4 separate regions of the Homo sapiens genome follow, and regions 1, 2 and 4 are each linked to region 3. The links come from fine-mapping of genetic effects on gene expression. A gene starts in region 3. Each other region holds a variant in brackets. All regions are shown on one strand. Distances are from middle to middle.

Region 1 (5,151 bases), 38 kb after region 3:
ATCAACAATGTTGAGTCTCTCAACCTATCAACAAGATATTTACTTAGGTCTTAATTTTTCTTAGCAATGCTTTTTAGTTATCAGTGTACAGATAATCCACATAGTTTGTCGGGTTTATTCCCAAGAATTTTATATTTTAATGCTATTGTAAATGGTATTATTTTTAAATTTTCAATTCCTAATTCTTTACTTCTAACATGGAGAAACACAATTGATTTGTGTATATCAATTATATATCCTGCTGTGTTGCGAAACTCACTTGCTGGTTTCAGTAACTTAGTAATGGATTTGATTTGGTTTTCTACATAGATGATAATATCTGTGAATAGACAGTTTTACTCATTTCTTTTCAATCTAAAGGCCTTTCATTTTTCTCCTTCCCTCCCTCTTTCCCCCTACTCCCAATTAAAACATGATTGCAGTGGCTAGAATTTTCAGTACAACGTTGAATAGAAGTGGTAAGAGTTGACATCTCTGTCTTATTCTCAATCTTAGGGGAAAACATTCAGCCTTTCATCATTACATAGGATGTTAGCAGTAGATATTTTAAAGATGCCCTTCGACAGGTTGAGGAAATTCTCTTGTATCCCTAGTTTGCTGAGATTATTTTTTAAACAAAGCATGGTTGTTCAATCTAAAAAAAAAAAAAGGACATGGACATGGAGGGATGAGCCTTCTAGGTGTCTTATTCCAGGCTGCTGGAGCTGCTGGAGCTCACAGTGACTAGCCAAGCCTCGTATCAGTTCTAAAGAAAAGGAACCATGAGCCCTCCTGACCTCCTCCATGTCCCTTCTGACACCACAGCCCTTCTGAGATCTGTCTCCAAGAGGCACCTGGGATGTGAAAGAATCCCACAAAAGCCAGAGGGGTAGCATAAAATTTCCTTTCCTGGCTGAGGACAGGTTAGTGACCTGAGCAGATGACTGGATGTCATCAATAGCCTAGAAAGAACCTGGGAAGACTAGCTCCTCTCTCTGGCCCCGTCAGGCTTGTTCACACCTCCCCAGCCTCAGAAGAAAAGATCAGCAGGGCACAGTGGCTCACACCTGTAATCCCAGCACTTTGGGAGGTCAAGGTGGGCGGATTACCTGAGGTCAGGAGTTCCAGACCAGCTTGGCCAACATGGTGAAACCCTGTCTCCACTAAAAACACAAAAATTAGCACGGGCGTGGTGGCGGGCACCTGTAATCCCAGCTACTTGGAAGGCTGAGGCAGGAGAATTGCTTGAACCCGGGAGGTGGAGGTTGCAGTGAGCAGAGATCACGCCACTGCACTCCAGCCTGGGCGACGGAGTGAGACTCCATCTCAAAAAGAAAAAAAAAAAAAAACCAGTCAGAGTTCTTAGCCACAGTAGGACAAAGAAAGGTTCAGCAATTAGCCACAAGAAAGGGGACAACCAGCAGGCCACTTCCTTTGGTTTAGCAGTGACAGAGGAGGAGCCCTAGTGGACCAGTTGGCCCTGTGCAAAGAACAGAAAGGCAATCCAGATAAACGTCATTTGTAGGATGACTCTGGAGGTCCTGGAGGGCCAGGAATGCTGGCTGACAAGACAGGGCACTAATCGTAGTCAGGCAACAAGGAGGAGCTGAAAGGGAACACAAGGGACAGTGAACATCCTGCAGATCCAGGAAGAAGCTTCCAAAAGAGATGGGCAGGGAGGGCCAGGGAGGAGATGGCTTGGCTGATGAAAACGAGGGAAACAGTCACAGGCAGTTACAGGAGGCACAACCAGAAACAGGCCAGGAAACTCTGGGGTCATGAAGGAGGCTGAAGCTGTGGCTTTGGGTGGATCCAAAAACCAGTGTGGGCCTTGATTCCCTTGACTGCACAGTGGTATAACAATCCCTGCTTCCTCACAAGGCTCTCCATAAGAACCAGGTAAGATCGTGGACACAAAAGCACTTTGTAGGTTAGGCATCAGGCTGACATGAGACCACCTGCAGTTTATCCCCAGTGTCCCCAGCACAGGCTAAGTGCAAACACTGGGACTATTTAAAGGTCACTGGGCAGGCGTGCCTACTTCCTGCTGGCTGCACAGCAGGGATCTGTCTTCCCACCCCACTCTCCCCTGGCCCAACTCCAGGGGAGAATGGAAAATAAAATCAGTTTAAAAGCAAACATTTATAAATAATGGAGAAAAAAATATAGCTGAGAGCAGCAGGATTTTTCAACTCCTATGGGCTCTCGTCCAAAAAAAAAACAGCAGCATTTTCTGCTGCTGCTCTGTTCTTTCCCCATCTAGTGCCAGGAGGTCATAAAGAAAGATATGCAGGGAGAGGGAGGGAGGGATGGGAAATAAAACCCAAGAGAAAAAGAGTCTGCACCTAATGTCAGAAAATACATTCCACAGTCAGGCGCAGAATCAGAACACCAAGAATGCTTAGATTCAAATTCAGAAACAGCATATACCACCAAAAAGTGCTTCTTTTCTACCTCACTCCATGGCCAGGCTCTCCAGGGGCTTGTCTAAAGCAGAGTCACTTGTTCTCAGATGCCAGAGTAGAAGCAGACTCACTCTATGCAGGACCACGGTGATGGCTTCCATGCTGAGGGACAAGTGGACCCCAAAACTCTGTCCCTTACTGTTGCTCCCGTGATCTCTGATGGGGCTGCCTTTTGCCACCTGGGAATCACTTGCACCCAAGGCTTATGTGCTGTTGCTGAATAGGTTTGTATTCATGGGAATTCAGTGGGACAACATCCAGAGA[G/C]GAAACAGGTACATGAGGAAGATTCCACTCCACAAGATACAGAACCCACTTCTCATCCTGTGCTACTGACATTCAGGTTCGAGAATGTATTGTTGCTTCCAAAAGTAACCCTCAAATGTTCGAATCACAAGCAACACATTGCTGCAAGATAAAAGGCACATGTCTGTAAGACAGAGGTTTCGAAGATAGTTACAAAACTGTCCACCAGCTTCTGTCCATAGTGCCTTCCAAAGCTTCATAAAACTGGCCATGAATTATGCAAGACACACGGCAAAACACTTCTTCACAGCATCCCTAGGAAAGAAAAGACACAAAGATGAGTGGAACGTCATCACCCCAAAGGCACTCCTTTAGAGGGCACCCAGAGTGGAAGCTGCAGAGTAGAAAGCACCTAGACTGAAAGATCAGACCTTCACAGCATCAAACTGCAGCTTCAACATTTATTAGTAGTACTATCCTGGGAAAGTTCCTTGTCCTGTTTGAGTTTCAAATTCCTCATCTGTAAGAGGGGATGTCCCCACTTACCCGACAGTCTGATTATGGGATTAGCCATCATAATCAGAGAAAAAGATAACATAGACTGTCAGAAACTAAGAAATCAGTCAGGATTGCTGCACTTTAATATCGGTCAAAATCACAGAATGCACTGACAGCATTAAATCAAATATTAACTGGGACCTTTCTTCATTCTAAGCAGGCAGCAGAAGGGAGCTCACTATGGGTCCTGAGCACTTATTAATATGCTATAATGGCCTTATCACAGGTATTTACTGCTTGGAATTCAGTGTAGAGGGTGCAAGGAAGAGTTGGTCTTCAAGAAATTACTATTCTACCCAAGCAAGCACTTCCATTTCCACCACCACACCACACTGTGCAATGTGGCACTAGGCTTCTCATACCCCAGCTCTGTTCCACGTTCTCAACTGTGCTGCACTAAGGACATTGGGAGTCACATAAGGGAGGGAGAGGTGAATGGATGCATTTCCATGAGTAGGCACTGCATTTTAATATCAAGATGGTTCCAGGGCAGCATTTCTTGAGATATACTCTGCACTGTAGTCTCAGAAGAGTCTCTGCACAAGAAGGGTTTTATGGCCACATAAGTCCCCCTCATGGCAGCTCACAATACACATAGCATATGGAAGGATCTAGCAAGCCAGGCAAAGAGGAACCTACCTAATTTTGCTTAACCTGTTTCTCAAACTTACTTGATCATAGAACTCTTTTCTTCCACAGAAACACTATTTCTGTGGAACACTGTGGGAAAAGCTATTCCAGGGGAACTTACAAATAGAAGGGTGGGGCCAGGCATGGTGGTTCGGACCTGTAAACCCAGCACTTTGGGAGGCCGAGGTGGGCCAATCACTTGAGGTCAGGAGTTCGAGACCAGCCTGGCCAACACGGTGAAACCCCATCTCTACTAAAAATACAAAAAATGAGCCTGGCATGGTGGCGTGCACATGGAGGCTGAGGCAGGAGAACAGCTTGAAGCCAGGAGGTTGGAGACTGAGGTGAGCTGACATCGGGCCACTGCACTCCAGCCTGGGCCATAGAGTGAGACTCCATCTCAAAAAAAAAAAAAAAAAAAAGAATAGAAGGGTGGGATCTAGCTCTGTGATTCCCTCCCTACTAGAGGAGTAATTCGTCTCCTCAGCACATGAAACTCACTATCTCAAATAAAATTCCCTCATTCTATCAATCACTTGTACATAAATTTTATACATGCCAATCCAGATCAAGACTGAAGCTCTGACAAATGACTCCAAGCAAGTTTCACGAATGAGACCTGTGCAACTGCATTGGCCCCATACTCAGAAGGGTCCACATTGGGTTTAATGCCTTGATTTGATGTTGCCATCTTGAAATTCTTAATCTTTTTTTTTGAGACAGAGTCTCCCTCTGTTGCCCAGGCTGGAGGGCAATGGCGTGATCTCGGCTCAGTGCAACCTCCGCCTCCCAGGTTCAAGCGATTCTACTGCCTCAGCCTCCTGAGTAGCTGGGATTACAGGTGCACGCCACCACGCTCGGTTAATTTTGGTATTTTTAGTAAAGACAGGAGTTCACCACGTTGGTCAAGCTGGTCTTGAACTCCTGACCTCGTGATCCGCACACCTCAGCCTCCCAATGTGCTGGGATTATAGGCTGAGCTACCGTGCCCGGCCTATGATTTTTGAACAAGAAGCTCACATTTTTATTTTGCACTGGGCCCTGAAAACTATGCAGCTGGTTCAGGGACCAAAAAATATTCATATGTTGGCAGGTTGATCAATATCTCATTGGATCCTCAGTAATGATGAACTCCGGTTTACTTCACATAAAAATCTAGCTTCCCAGGACATCCCTGCCCATATTCTTCTCAGACAAGCCACCAGGCCCCAAAACCAGCCAGGTCTGCATGGAGTATTTCATAACTGTTACCCTCCTAGAATCTATCAACAAAGCC
Region 2 (5,151 bases), 30 kb after region 3:
GGTGAAACCTCGTCTCTACTAAAAATACAAAAATTAGCTGGGTGTGGTGCGCTACTGTAATCCCAGCTACTTCGGAGGCTGAGGCACAAGAATCACTTGAACCTGGGAGGCCGAGGTTGCAGTGAGCCAAGAACACACCACTGCATTCCAGCCTGGGCAGCAGAGTGAGACTCCATCTCAAAAATATATATATTTATTTGTTTGTATGTATGTATGTATGTATGTATGTGTGTGTGTATTTTTTTTCCAAAATAAACACTTAAGGAAATGTCTTACTTTTTAAAAACCTTCCAAACTGTCCCTAGACCCATGTGAAACCCTAAGTCATTTAAAAGAGAGGACTACATGTCAGGTTAGGTCCCCCAAAACATCTTTAAGTGCCTATAATGTGTGCTACACACTGAGAATTCAAATTAAAGATACGGTTTTTTCTTACAGTTCTACAGTCTTCCTTTGGCTTAAAGACTCCTGGAAATACAGACATGAGTAAGAGACAACACTAGATTTATTAAAGATCATAATGCTATCATTTATTGAAGAAAGAAAGCAAAAAAAACTAACAATTGTGATGGGGGAGGAGAGACAGCTTGGCAACATTCCTTTTAAAGTTAAGTTAGCATAAAGAAAACAATATTTAGTAAATGAAATAGATTTTCAAGGTAGGAAAAGTAGTACTCAAGAATGTATTTTTGGATACAAAAATTCAGTTACACAATCAGTAGCATTCAAAATTAGTTATGAGTATTTATACAATTACAAAAATGGATTCATGTTTTAACAACGTATTTTAAAAGCTCAAACATTTTAAAACAGGCACAATATTCTAAAGGCATATGCATTCACCATGGGCTTTTGAATGTCCTCACTCCCAACTTCACAATCAAAATCTACAGAAGCGGCAAAAGATCAGAGTTCAGAGGGCTATTTTTTTTTTCCCTTTCCTTACTTAAGGTTGCAAACACATTGACAGAGGCAAAATAAACACGTTTCATAGCAGAAAGACCAAAAAATTGAATGTAAACCATAGCTCTCCCTTGGGAGATTACACAAATACAAGGTTCATCTGTACTTAGAACAAGGCTCATAACTTCTTGTAGCATGGACATTCAACAGGCACAGAGCAACAACATTCACCCAAATACCAGCTGCAATTTGTCCTTTAAGGATGCCTCACAAGGATATTATGTCCAGGTAGCTAGTCCATTTATATCGGGGACCAGTTGTCCTTTTGTTGTTTGTGGCTGTTTATTAAATGTAGTGGCACAACTTTGTTGTGAATATGTACCATCATTTGCTACAATCTAGACAGATCATCCTGTCTACAAAAAATCATTTTCTACATTTCTAAGACCATTATCAGTTTATCTGCTCCTGCTAGAAAAGGACATACTTTTTGTCAATTTACATTAACAAAGGCTCTGCTACTCCCCATTTACTCGCTGCAATGAAAACTGGTAAGCCAAGGGTAAAGCTTAAGTATCAGGGACTATGAATTTAGGGTAGAAGTGAAAATAACCAAAGTGGAACTAAATCCCCTATTCTTGAGTGCAACTGAGATCAAGTAAACTTCGCTGGACTTTCTTCTTAACTATAAAACTATTAACCAGAAGGTAAAGTCACACAATTTTACCTCCCAACAAACTTTTAAAATAAAAATTTCCAAAAAATTTAGATGTCTAGGTTTTGTTATATCTTACCAAGAGTTACACAGACATAAATTTGTATTTAACTTCAGTTAAACATCTATTCACTTTTTAAAAATGCTGTCTGCAAATAAACTACTGGACATCTTAAGCTTACTAAAAAAAACTTAAGATTTTTAAATTAAAAAAAAAAAACTAGGACAAAAATCTAGCAAATGGTTTCACGTACCTTTAAACACTGATTCTTAAAAATTTATATGCTGAAAATGAGGTTTGAGAATACGTATTTTAAACCATTTATAATCCTACCGTCGACTCTAGTCAGAAGTTATCTGAGCAAAGAGAAAATAAAGCCTGGCGTAGACAGTCCCATAGAAAATAGAATCCATAGCCACTGGGCTGCCCTTCAATTTCCCAATTCATTCCACTAAGTCTCATGATGCAAATCTGTCACTTTCATAGAGCTATCAAAAACAGAAGCCAAGCCAGATCCTCCACACTTTAAGATATGGTTCCTTATTATCTATTTTAACAGAAGTATCAAAAAGTGATTTTTTTTTTTATTTATTTTTGAGACAGAGTCTCACTCTGTTGCTCAGGCTGGAGTGCAGGGGTGCGATCTCGGCTCACTGAACTTCCACCTCCTGGGTTCAAGCAATTCTTGTGCCTCAGCCTCCCTCCCAAGTAGCTGGGATTATAGGCGCACACCAGCTAGCCTGGCTGATTTTTTTGCTGTTGTATTTTTTGTAGAGATGGGGTTTTGCCATGTTGGCCAGGCTGGTCTTGAACTCCTGACCTCAAGCGATCCACCCACCTCAGCCTCCCAAAGTGCTCAGATTACAGGTGTGAGCCACTGCACCCAGCCAAAAGGTAATTTTATTTGGAATGCATTTCATGATTTTATTTCTTGCTCCCTGAGCCTGCAGTGATTAGGGTGGAAGGGAAGTGGCACTCAGGCAGATAATTCACAAAGTCACCACACAAGGGTGATAGATGATCCACCACTGAGATAATCAACCCAGTGAAAATGCTACACTGGGGACCATGTTTTGCCCTTCCCAGACAAGACATC[T/C]TGAGCTAGGATCTGAGCTACGGCTATGCAGAGGAGCAGAACTGAAGGCTCCGTTTGAGCCCTTTCTGCAAAAGGGGATGCATTTCAGATAATGAGACAAGAGACGGGAGTGAGTTAGTACACAGCACGCCCAATACCCAACAAGCAGCCTCAGAGAGACTGGGAGAAGGGGGAGAGGGGACTGGAAGCCATCTCTTCTGTTCTGAAGGGCAGTGCTCCTCCCAAGACAGCACTCAGAGAGCCAACAGCCCAGGGCAGATCACGCCAGGACAGTGCTTCCATATGGCTGGCTGAGCACCATATTCCAATCTGCAAAAGAGTCACCTTATTGGTTCCCTTAACTTCCAAAATGCAGCAAGCCCTCCTTCACCCAGCAGTGAACGGAAGGGAAGGGAATGCAGGGCAGCAGGGAGACAGAGACCATCATTAACTACAGGTCTGAAACCCTAATTCTTTACTCACTCATCAGGTTGCTTTTAATCACTGCTGTTGCTTGGTAACAGGTTTCAGCAGATTTGAAATGGATTTCTTCCTCCCACAGTCTAACAAAAACAAGTAGGGAAACAACCAAAGAATAAGGCAACTTAAGGAAAAACGCAGGAAGACCCTGGGAGGCAGGGTCATGCAAAAGCTGCCAATGGTGTCCTGATGGGAGCTGTCTGAGCAAACTGGCCACAGGCCGTGAGTGAAAGCAAAGCAGAAGCCTTTCTACAAGACCCATCTCCTGCCAAGAACCCCTCCCTGACGCCTCCACTCGTGGGGTCTGGGATAGGCTCTTTACCTTCTCAGAGGATGGAGGCAATACCATTCACTGGGCAGTCACTGTGAATATTGAATGAGATAAAACATGGCAGTGTCTACAGCGCCGGGCACATAGTACTAGATAAGTATTTGTTAAATAAATTAATGATCGGAGACATTCACTCTCATCTTCCAAAGTTGTCAGTTATTTCTGGGATTAAATAACACCTACCCTACTGAGACTCTACTTATGCCAAGCCCTATTCTAAGCACTTGACACGTCTCACTGACATCTTGCAATGACCCAGCAGGAACTGTTATTCCCACAATTTTTAAACAGATGAACAAACTGAGGAGCCAGAGGTTAGGTAACCTGTTCAAAATGACACAACTAGTATATGACTAGTCACAGCTCACAGCCAGATGCATCTGACTTCAAAGCCTACATTCACTACTAGTATGCTATACAGGTGACATCTTAAAAGGTACCTTGGCCTCATGTCCCACAAAGTCAATCCAGGCATTAAAAAGGACATGGGGCTGGGCATGGTGGCTCACGCCTGTAATCCCAGCACTTTGGGAGGCCGAGGCAGGAGGATCACTTGAGGTCAGGAGTTCGAGACCAGCCTGGCCAACATGGTGAAACCCTGTTTCTACTAAAAATACAAAAATTAGCCGGGTGTGGTGGCACATGCCTGTAGTCCCAGTTTCTTGGGAGGCTGAGGCACAAGAATCACTTGAACCCAGAAGGCAGAGGTTGCAGTGAGCTGAGATCATGCCACCGCACTCTAGCCTGGGAAACTGAGCAAAACTCCATTTCAAAATTAAAGCAGTGTGTAGAGGGAAATTTATAGCACTAAATGCCCACAAGAGAAAGCAGGAAAGATCTAAAATCAACACCCTAACATCACAATTAAAAGACCTAGAGAAGCAAGAGCAAACAAATTCAAAAGCTAGCAGAAGACAAGAAATAACTAAGATTAGAGCAGGACTGAAGGAGATAGAGACCACGAAAAAAACAATGAATCCAGGAGCTGGTTTTTTGAAAAGATCAACAAAATAGATAGACTGCTAGCCAGACTAATAAAGAAGAAAAGAGAGAAGAATCAAATAAATGCAATAAAAAATGATACAGGGGATATCACCACCGATACCACAGAAATACAAACTACCATTAGAGAATACTATAAACAACTCTACGCAAATAAAGTAGAAAATCTAGAAGAAATGGATAAATTCCTGGACATATACACCCTCCCAAGACTAAACCAGGAAGAAGTCGAGTTCCTGAATAGACCAATAACAAGTTCTGAAATTGAGGCAGTAATTAATAGCCTACCAACCATAAAAAGTCCAGGACCAGATGGATTCACAGCCGAATTCTACCAGAGGTACAAAAGGGAGCTGGTACCATTCCTTCTGAAACTATTCCAAACAATAGAAAAAGAGGGAATCCTCCCTAACTCAATAGATGCAGAAAAGGCATTCAACAAAATTCAACAGCCCTTCATGCTAAAAACTCTCAATAAACCAGGTATTGATGGAACGCATCTCAAAATAAGAAGAGCTATTTATGACAAACCCACAGCCAATATCATACTGAATGGGCAAAAACTAGAGGCATTCCCTTGGAAAACCAGCACAAGACAAGGATGCCCTCTCTCACCATTCCTACTCAACATAGTACTGGAAGTT
Region 3 (5,151 bases):
AAACTTTCTATCTCCTGGCAAAATCTTGACCCTAAAGGGCTCCGAGAGCTTAGGAGAATTTAAGAAAAAGATTTCATCTATAGGAAGACGGCAAACACAGCAGGACATCCATAGATAAGAACAGCCAAGTTCACCGCAATCAGACTTTTTCTACAAAGAATATTGTTCATGTAGCTAATATTAAATGACGTTAAAGATGAAGGATTTCATTTTGCTTTTTAAAGACAGGGTCTCACCGTGTTGCCCAGACTGATCCCGGGCTCAAGGACCCCTTGCCTCAGCCTCCTGCGTAGCTGGGACAACAGGAGCACACCACCACACTGGGCTGATGTGAAGAATATTACATTTTAAATATAGGGGAAAATTACATAGGCAATAAAAAGGCAAGATAAAACTTTTCTTAAATGGTAAAAGTACATTCCAATGTAACATATTATTAAATTGGAATTTATCATGGTTTCAGAAACTTTTATTATTTATTCCTTATTGAAATAGATGAACCATATATTGACTTGGTAATTGTACTTATTTTTACTTTAATAAATGGCCAATTTGACAGCCCAATCAATAGCATAAGGCTAGGTATTACTGTAATTAGTATCCAATAATACAAAGAAAAATAAGCAGAATGTTCTACCTATAATCAGATATAATAAAATTTTTACAGTTGCATCTTTGCCCATTTTTAAAGGGTCAGAGACTAAATCCAATTAAGAATTTGGTGTAATTCTGTGAAATTAAAACTATGTTTTATGTTTTCTTCTATGAAAGAAGCTAAAAATAATGTGTAAATACAGGTCAAGAGAAGGAACTATAATTACAGTAACAATATTAAAAGCAATAAATCTATATGAAATAAGTGTGGAACCCATTTTGAGAAAGAAAATATAAAAATCAAGCAAGGTTGATATTCCTGCTACTGGTATAATCGCAATTTCTTGAAATGCCCTAATTCAGGTATGGCTTTCATTTTAGAAAGCATTTTAATGCCATGTAACAGCTCTCGAGTTCATAACTCTTCAAGATTGACAAGAAATAGTTCATTTTCTATACTGTGCTTTATTAAAATATAGAAAACCGAGACATCAGGAACGGAAGCACTTTGCACAAGGACAAAAGCCTGACAGAAAGAAGTTCAGATGGCCTCGGCTCTTCTCTTTTATCAGAATTCTCTCGAGGGTGTCATAATTAGAGTTCAGCCAAAACTAAGCCTACTGAAAATGCCTTTCAGCATTTTGTACTTTTGTGACCATGTGTATGAAAAGCTATGTGAACACCAGCTGAATGTTGGAGCCAGTTTGGCCAAGCTGCGAGCGGTGAGATTTTGTTTCAAAATATTTGCGTCTCCTCTACGAAGTGAAATCTTCTAATATTACCTGGACAGCCCCTTAGCAGACTAGGTTTAATAGAATCTGAGAAATGCCACCAGAGATCAGTTTCAGTTAATCCCTAAATTTGTTGCACTGATAAGAAAGAAGGCATCTTCTTTTCTCTAAAGCAGAATAATATGTTTTCATCCACTATTACTGCAACAGCTTTCATATCATCACAAACACACACAATCTCAAATGAACACTCACCACAAACACACACGGGGAAGCAGATGAAGTGATAGGCAATGAGTTTACATTTGCCCTTTTGCTTCCAATCTTCAACTAGCCAAACATTTCTGGCAAGTTTGCTATACTTAGGAGGAGATCATCCAGCTTCCAAATAAAGTTGTCTTTCACCTTATCTGGACGGAGTTGGGGCTCAGGTCTGCGATAGGGTATGCAGCTAGTCACAAATTAATATTATTTTCTGACATTTAAGTCCATTTTCCCATCCCAATGGGGCATGCCCCCCACTTTATGGTAATTTCCCCAGAATTTCTCCATTTAAAATGCACATAAGACAGGTGGCTTCATCCTCTGATGATCTCAGATAAATTAATTAAGTTGGCTGGAGGAAAGCCATTGGAGACAGTCGTTCCTGTAAGCATGTTTAATCAGATCCCGCCGCCTCTGAGTGAAGAGCGGCAGCCTCTTCAATATTCAAGGGGTCTCATCTCTCCTGCCAAGCCCTGCCAGCCCACGCGGGGCGGCAGATAAACTCACCTGCCATTCTTGGTCACAATCATCTCATTAGTGACTTCCTTGAATCTCTGCCAGAGAGGTGCATCCTCCAGGATGATCTGAAGTTGCTTCTCCGTAGGGTCGCCTTTTTCCCTCCCTGCCTGAAGCTCACTCTCCACCACATTGAGCAGATGAGAAACAGTGCCATCGCTGGGCTTCCGAGTGCCCAGCTCACTCATGGCCATAGGCACTTCTCGAACTTTGCCGAGAGCCGTTACCCAACTTGCCTGCTTCTAGCTTCTTCCTTCCCTCACTTGCCTGCTTTTCAAACCCACTTGAACAGTGCTTGGGGAGCGGAGAGAAGATACCCTGGCTCTTGCCTAAGCTCCTAGGATGACACCCCTTAAAAGTCTCCACATTATGCCACCAACCTGTTAAGCTTTAGTTGGGGAGCGGGGTGGAGGCAGGGGAGAGGTAGGGAAGAAAAAGCCCTCTCTTAATTACTCATTGGATCAGGTGGGAGAGAGCCTGGCTTTCCCATTGGCTGCCGTGCACAGAGTAGATATTTAAGAAGAGTACTCCATCCAAATTATCAGGCTTTTATCTTGTTGTACCTGAAGAGGTCTAATCGGTGTATTGAGGACCATTTTCCCATTAATTAAAATTATTCCAGGCCCAGACTGCACTGTCAGGCAAATCATGTTTGTGCATAAATCATGACATGTGGCACCTATAAAGAAAAGGGTCCTGGGGAGAATCGACAAACTTGATGCCCAGGCTATAAGCTACTCTCCAGCATCTTAGACGAAGGCTCTGGAGGGAAGAAAGCATGTATGGAAGGTCCAAGGCACTGTGCCAAGAAACATGACTACTGTACCAGAGAATAAAGGAAGACACTCTGTGTGCCACTGCTCAAGGGTCAGGGCTCCGGAGAAAAGAAAAGAGCTCAGAATCTCTTTCTCCCAGGGTGTCCCCTACTGATCATCTCTCTCCTGAATGTCCTATACTCGCTCACACCCCACTTTTCTCAAGGGCCCTCCTCACCTCCTACAAATGGAGCTGTGAATGTTGTCCTTCCTCCCTAGAGTCTAGAACCCCAATTTTTGTTATCTCTAGCCTTTGCCAGAGGAAGACAAAAAAGCAGCTAGTATCATATTAATCTCGCTAAGGAACACTCTGCCCCCAGTCAGTGAAAATAAACTGTTTACATTATTAGGCAGAGCAATTTCAATCTTTGGTCCAGAAAGGCATTCTGGTTTTCTCTTTAGACAATTCATCCTTATTTTGGCATTCCAGGATGAATCCCACATTCCCTGGGAAGAAACACTAGTAGAAAGCTTTTCTTTTGCCCACAACACACAGTACTAATGGCGAGTGAGTGGATGGCGGGTGGAAGAGACAGGAGCAGAGGAAGCTCTACCTCCTCTGGCCCCCAACCTTGAGTAGAGCCTGGGGGTTGTGAGTTTTTCTCTCATTTCAATACAAAGTAAGAAAACAAGAACATAAGGAAAACAAACCCAAAAAGGTAAGATAAAGTCAGGGTAAGGATGACAGAAAATGTATTCAGGATCTCCTATGCTACATACCTATGAAGCATCACATACAGCAAGGAACAAACAGAAATGGCCTGCGCCTTTACAGAATTAACAATATGATGGAGAAAATAAATGATATAAAGTAAACAACAACTAAGTAATTATCAATAGTGATAAGTCTATGAAGGCTACTTAAAAGGGTGAAGTGATCAAGAAAAATTTGTGCACAGCAGGGTAGGGAACTCCAGTTAGATGGAGTTGTATAGAACAGCTTCTTTGAGGAGGAGACATTTCAGATGAGACCAAAAGCTCAGCAAAGATGTAGTCGGGGAAGAGTTGGCAGAGTGCCAAGCAGAAGAATTACATGTGAGAAGCATGGCTTGAGCCAGGTAGAAATCTCCAGGGAGGCCAGTGTGACCAGAATGTGGTGGTAAAGAGAGCAGAATGAGATGTTCTTTGAGAGAGGGCCAGGCCAGACCATGAGGCCTTAGAAGTCATGATGAAGAATTTGAATGTTCTTCAGCATGAGATAGGAAACAATTGGAGAGTATTAAGTAGGAAAACAGCATGATTGGCTTTGTGTTTGCAAAAAATCTAATCGATTTGTGAAGAATAGACTAGGAAAGGGCAAGAGCTGAAGTAAAGAACAAATTAGAGGCTATGACAGCAATTCAGGCAAGAGCTGGTGATGGCTTAGCCTAGGGTAGTGGCAGTGGCCAAAAAATGAAGTGTACAGGTTCTAGATACACTTTAGAAGTCTATATGACAGAACAACATGAGAGACTGGATATGGGGGTGAGGGAGAGCAGAGAACCATGTGCCTGATCAGAACAATTATTAGATGGCAGGGCCATTTACTGAGATATGGAAGGTGAGGGAGGTGGAAGGGTAGGCAGAGGTACAGTTTGGTTAGGAGACTCAAACATTTCAGTTTCATACAGCTAACACTGAAAAGAATGTGGCAGGCTGAATAAGGACCCCCTGCAAAAGAGACCCATTTCCGAATCCCCAGAACCTGTGAGTGTATTACCTCACATGGGAAAAAGGGACTTTTCAAATGTGATTCAGTTAAGGGTCTTGAGATGGGGAGATTAACCTGGGTTATCTGGTGAGCCCAGTGCAATCGCAAAAATAAGAGGGAGGCAGGAGGATCAAAGTCAGAGGAAGAAGATGTAAGGACAGATGCAGAAGTCAGAGGGGAGAGAAGATGCTACACTCCTGGCTTTGAAGATGGAAAAAGGGGCCAGAAGACACGGAATGTAAGAAGTCTCTAGAAGCTGGGAAAGATAAGGAAATAGATTATCCTCTAAAGCCTCCAGAAGGAACATAGTCCTGCTGACACCTTGGCTTTAGTCCAGTGAAACTAATTTTGGGCTTCTGATTCCCCAAACTGTAAGATAATAGGTTTATGTTGTTTTAAACCACTAAGTTTGTGGTAATTTGGTACAGCAGCAATAGGAGACTAATGCAAAGACTATTAGGTATATAAGTGGAGATTTTGAGAAGGCGCTGCTTAGAACTGTGACACAATTGTGGCTCTGAGCTTCCAAGCAGCCAATGCA
Region 4 (5,151 bases), 58 kb after region 3:
GCACTCTAGCTTGGGCAACAGAGTGGAAACAATACAAATGGCCACCAACTGATTAATGGTAAATAAAATGTGACATACCCATGCAATAAAAAAGAATGGAGTACTGACACATGCTACAACGTGGATGAACCTCGAAAACATTGTATTAAGTGAAAGAAGTGTGGAGCCCGAAAATTTGAGACAGGTCTCAGTTAACCAGGAAGTTTATTTTGCCAAGGTTGAGGAACAGCACCTGTGACACAGACTCAGGAAGTCCTGACGACATGTGCCCAAGGTCGTTGGGGCATAGCTTGGTGTTATACATTTTAGGGAGACATGAGGCATCCGTCAATATGTGTAAGAAGTACATTGGTTGTGTTTGGAAAGGCGGGACAACTCGAAGCAAAGGCAGGAAGACTCAAGGGGGGAGGGGGCTTCCAAGTCACAGATAGGTGAGAGACAAATGGTTGCACTCCTTTGAGTTTTTGATTAGCCTTTCCAAAGGAGGCAATCAGATGTGCATTTATCTCAGTGAACACAGTGATAACTTTGAATAGAATGAGAGGCAGATTTGTTCTAAGCAGTTCCCAGCTTGAATTTTCCCTTTAGTAATTTGGGGGGGCCCAAGATATTTCCCTTTCACAGAAGCTAGACACAATAGACCATATATTGTATGATTTCATTTATAGGAAATGTCCAGAATAGGCAAACCCATAGAAACAGAAAGTAGACTAATGGTTGCCTAGGGATGGAGGAGGGGAAATGGTAGTAAGAGACTAATGGGGTGATTTAAATGTTCTGGAATTAGATTGTGGTAATGGTTGCATGCACAGCTCTGAACATACTAAAAACCATTGAATTGTATGCTTTGAATTAACTGTATGGCATATGAATTCTATTGCAATAAAGCCATTTCAAAAATGCTTAGAACAGTGCTCAGTATATATTTCACAATCCATTAATATTATCTATTGTAAAATGTAACAGGCATCCACTCTTATCTTTCTCCAATGTGTCTGAGTCTGAACCCAGAATATGGGCTCCTGATTTACCTACATTTATATTTGCACATTGTGCAATTGGCCCATTACAAGGTGATTCATTGTAGCATTGTTTGTAATAGAAAAAAATTGGAAACAACTTAAAAGTTCATAAATGAGGGAAGTGCTTAAATAAATTATGGTACATTCATTCACAAGAATACTAAGTAGTCATTAAACACAGAAGAATGAGGAAGGTTTAATCAATGTCTTCAGAAGGTTTTTTCTGACTGTGCCACACCATCCCTTGAAGGATCTTTGTAAACATAAGTCTGACTCATTTGTTGCCCTGCTTAACATCTCCCACAGTGTGGTAAACTGAAAAATGTTCCCCAAAAGATACCCATGTCCTAATCTCTGGAAAGTGTACATGTTACCTTAGACAGTGAAAAGTGGAGTGGGGGTGGTATTTTGTGCAGGTAATTAAGGATCTTAAAATAGATTATGCACAATTATCCAGGTGAGCCATAAATGCAATCATGTATATCCTTATAAGAGGGAAGCAGAGGGAGATTTGACACCAACAGAAGAGGAGAAGGCACTGTGACCACAGAGGCAGAGATGGGAGTGATGCAGCCACAAGCCAAGGAATGCCAGTAGCCACTAGAAGCTGGAAGAGGCAAGGAAAGGATTCTCCCCTAGAGCCTCCAGAGGGAGCATAGTCCTGCCAATAGCTTGTTTTCAGCATTTCTGGCCTCCAGAACTGTGAGAGAATCCATTTCTGTTGCCACCAAATTTCTGATATGTAACAGCAGCTGCAGGAAACTAATGCCCATGTTCCCTACCACCTACAGATAAATTGCTGCTGACTTCTCAGCAACACATACCTTCCTCTTTGGGTTCATCTCTCTCCTTTCTCTCACATACTCCAGG[C/T]TCCAGGCATAGGAGACTGTAGTTCCTGAACTCATTGTGTTCCCTACCTTGTCCTGGAAAACACCTACTCTTTTCCATCCTTGTCCCTTTCCCTTCCCCTAACACACAGTTCTCTCAAGTCACCTTATTCTTACCTCCACCATAACACTTAGCACAATATGCTCCATTTGTTCACATTAGGGTCCCTATGGGGCATAGATCTTATTTGTCTTTCCATCCCCAGTGCCAAGCACAGTGCCTGGAACGTATAGTAGGTGCTAAATAAATAGTAACCTACTCTAGTCATTGGCCAGGCGCGGTGGCTCATGCCTGTAATCCCAGCAGTTTGGGAGGCTGAGGCAGGTGGATCAGGAGGTCAGGAGTTTGAGACCAGCCTGTCCAACATGGTGAAACCCTGTCTCTACTAAAAATACAAAAAAATTAGCCGGGCATGGTGGCAGTCGCCTATAATCCCAGATACTCTGGAGGCTGAGGCAGGAGAATCACTTGAACCTGGGAGGCAGAGTTGCAGTGAGCCGAGATCGCCCCATTGCCCTCCAGCCTGGGCAACAAGAGCGAAACTCCGTCTCAAATAAATGAATAAATAAATAACCTACTCTAGTCACTGGTCACATTCTCATTCCCCACTGTGCAATGCAGATGCAAACAAGTCCTCAAGGCTGAGTGATGTACTCCCTCACAGCCTTTCTGTACCTCTGTTTTGCCAGGATGAACAAACAGGAAGCTTTAGATGAAATTTTATGTGCGCTCTATTAAATTTCACCCTCCTCTCAGCAAAAGCTAAACACAAAAAAAGTTCTTACAAAGTCTCTTAGAAGTGTGTGTGCAAGGAAGCTCTAAGGAGTTAGCTTCCAAGGAATAGGAAGTAAGGCAGTTCTCTGAGCATTATTAATGCATGAAATTAACACAGAATTCATCAGGGTGGACATATTCCTACTTGGTTATTAAGAAAAAGCCCTTAGAAAATCATGATTGAATACCTTAATGTATCTAGAATAGGAAAAGGAGAAGGAAAGGAAGGCCATTCCTCAAACTGGTTAATCCTAGGGGCTAGGAAAAGGAGACTCCTAAGGCAGTGTTGGCAAAGCCCATTTAAGCACAGCACAGGTCAGACATAGTTCTGGTGTCTGAGTCCCACATGAAGCAGGTTTATCCTTATCACAATTGTAAGAGCCTAGGCCACCATGCAAATCCTGAACTTTCTTCCTTTTTTTTTTTTTTTGAGATGGAGTCTCATTCTGTCACCCAGGCTGGAGTGCAGTGGCACGATCTCGGCTCACTCCAACCTCCACCTCCCAGCTTCAAGCGATTCTCCTGCCTCAGCTTCCCAAGTAGCTGGAACTACAGGTGTGCACTACAACACCCAGCTAATTTTTGTATTTTTTTAATAGAGACGGGGTTTCACTATATGTTGGCCAGGCTGGTCTTGAACTCCTGACCTCAGGTGATCCGCCCACCTCGGCCTCCCAAAGTGCTGGGATTACGGGCATGAGCCACCGCATCCAGCGTATTCTTTTATTTTGATTTCTTACATACCAAGAAGGCTTCTCCATTATAAAATCTGCTGCTCCCAGGAAGATGTCAGTCTTCTGAATGGTCACAATTCAGACCTTGAAGCCGTGAAGCCAAGAGACAGATCTTTGAAGGACACTTAGGGTTGTGCCATTCTGTGGATATTTGTAGGGGCAGCCAGGCCTCCCCTCTACTTCCAGTGGGTATTCTTGCCTTTTCTTCAGTCTTCCACATGAAGTAAATAAATGAAGTAGAAACCCTAGCTGAACCAATCAGGACAGTGCCTCTTGTTCTATTTTGGCATCACAGACCCTTTTGAGAGTATGATTGTCATGGAGCCTCTCCCCACCTGCCCCTGTGGGGAAAAGTGGCCCACACTACCAGCAGTGTCATATATGCCAGGCGTTCTGCCATGACTATGGGCCCTTGGTTGAAAACCCCAGGTTTAGAGAAAAACATTCAGATACACACCACCAGCCTTATGTATCGCTCCAAGCCCTAGATTGCTTTGTGTGTTCACCTGATTTTAGTGGTGGAGTAAGAGTTTAAATGATTTTTCCAAAGTCCCTTTGAGGGAGAGGCATGACCATTTAAAGGTAGGAAAGGAAGCTGAAAAGTAACTGTTTGATGTCAGTATTCTCATGGCCCCATGGCTTCTTTATCAATTACAATATAGCTGGCTGATAAACGAACTGTTGTATAGACAGGGATGAAAGAAACCATTTAAATCCAGGAGTGTTCAGAATTGCAGATAATAAGACTCTCCCAGTCATCACTGCAGGGAAGTAACTTTGCAATACATGAATGTTGTAAGGAGGGCTCTGATGCCCCACCTCATACCTGCTTGCCCGTGTACCAGCAATAGACATGAATCCCCGTGTACCAGCAATAGACATGAAGTTTGATATGCTTTGGCTCTGTGTCCCCACCCAAATGTCATCTGGAATTATAATCCCCACGTGTCAGGGGAAGGGCCTAGTGGGTGGTGATTGCATCACGTGGGTGGTTTCCCTTACACTGTTCTCACGATAGTGAGTTCTCATGAGATCTGATGGTTTAAAAGTGTGTGGCAGTTTCTCCTTCACTCTTTCTCCCTGACACCATGTGAAGAAGGTCCTTGGTTCCCGTTCACTTTCCATCATGATTGTAAGTTTCCTGAGGCCTCCCTAACTGTGCAGAACTGTAAGTAAATTACAATTAAGCCTTTTTTCTTCAAAAATTACCCAGTCTCAGGAGGTTCTTTATAGCAGTGTGAAAACAGACAGTCGTTTCTCTCCTCACGCCCTGCCGTGTGTGTGTGTGTGTGTGTGTGTGTGTGTGTGTGTGTGTGTGTGTGTAGGGGTGGGGGTTTCGGGGGGGAGCGCGGGGAGGATAGCAGAAAATGGCTTACAGAGAGAAATCCCCCCTCCCTCTGTCTCTGTACAGGGAAGCTGTTTTCTCCTTCCTTCCATCTTTCTTGACTGTTGAACTTTTCACTCCTTAAAACTACTCCACGTGTGTCCATGTTGTTTTATCAAAATTGGTGCGAGACTAAGGACCCTGGTGTTCGAACACTCCAGTCATCAGAGCTGTTTCAGTATTGGGAAGGGGGATCCAGCCATCAACCTGGAGCCAAACCCCAACCAACGAGATGCGACTATAAATGGGACACTCTGGGGCACGTTCCACAAGGTTCTGCAGAAGTCTCCAGCAAGATTAAGCCCCTTTTGACCACAGCTGCAATCCCCACATTCATGACCACGCCTTC

Evidence for each region. PIP is the estimated chance that this variant, and not a neighbour inherited with it, causes the effect.
Region 1: its variant is fine-mapped to the expression of TBX19 in whole blood (TOPMed, PIP above 0.99).
Region 2: its variant is fine-mapped to the expression of TBX19 in whole blood (INTERVAL, PIP 0.98).
Region 4: its variant is fine-mapped to the expression of TBX19 in whole blood (TOPMed, PIP above 0.99).

Annotation. Positions count from the first base shown.
Region 1 is chr1:168,240,352-168,245,502 of GRCh38, reverse strand. SFT2D2 (SFT2 domain containing 2) reads right to left here. Exons shown (of 8, transcript NM_199344.3): 8 at 1-3,002. The coding sequence ends at 2,963. Among named protein-coding and RNA genes, the nearest start is that of SFT2D2, 17 kb to the right of the region's middle. The variant G/C (reference allele first, on the strand shown) is at 2,709.
Region 2 is chr1:168,248,379-168,253,529 of GRCh38, reverse strand. It overlaps SFT2D2 (SFT2 domain containing 2), which reads right to left. Exons shown (of 8, transcript NM_199344.3): 8 at 509-5,151. Among named protein-coding and RNA genes, the nearest start is that of SFT2D2, 25 kb to the right of the region's middle. The variant T/C (reference allele first, on the strand shown) is at 2,716.
Region 3 is chr1:168,278,239-168,283,389 of GRCh38, reverse strand. It overlaps TBX19 (T-box transcription factor 19), which reads right to left and starts at 2,513. Exons shown (of 8, transcript NM_005149.3): 1 at 2,097-2,513. The coding sequence starts at 2,299.
Region 4 is chr1:168,219,950-168,225,100 of GRCh38, reverse strand. No RefSeq gene overlaps it. Among named protein-coding and RNA genes, the nearest start is that of SFT2D2, 3.5 kb to the left of the region's middle. The variant C/T (reference allele first, on the strand shown) is at 1,893.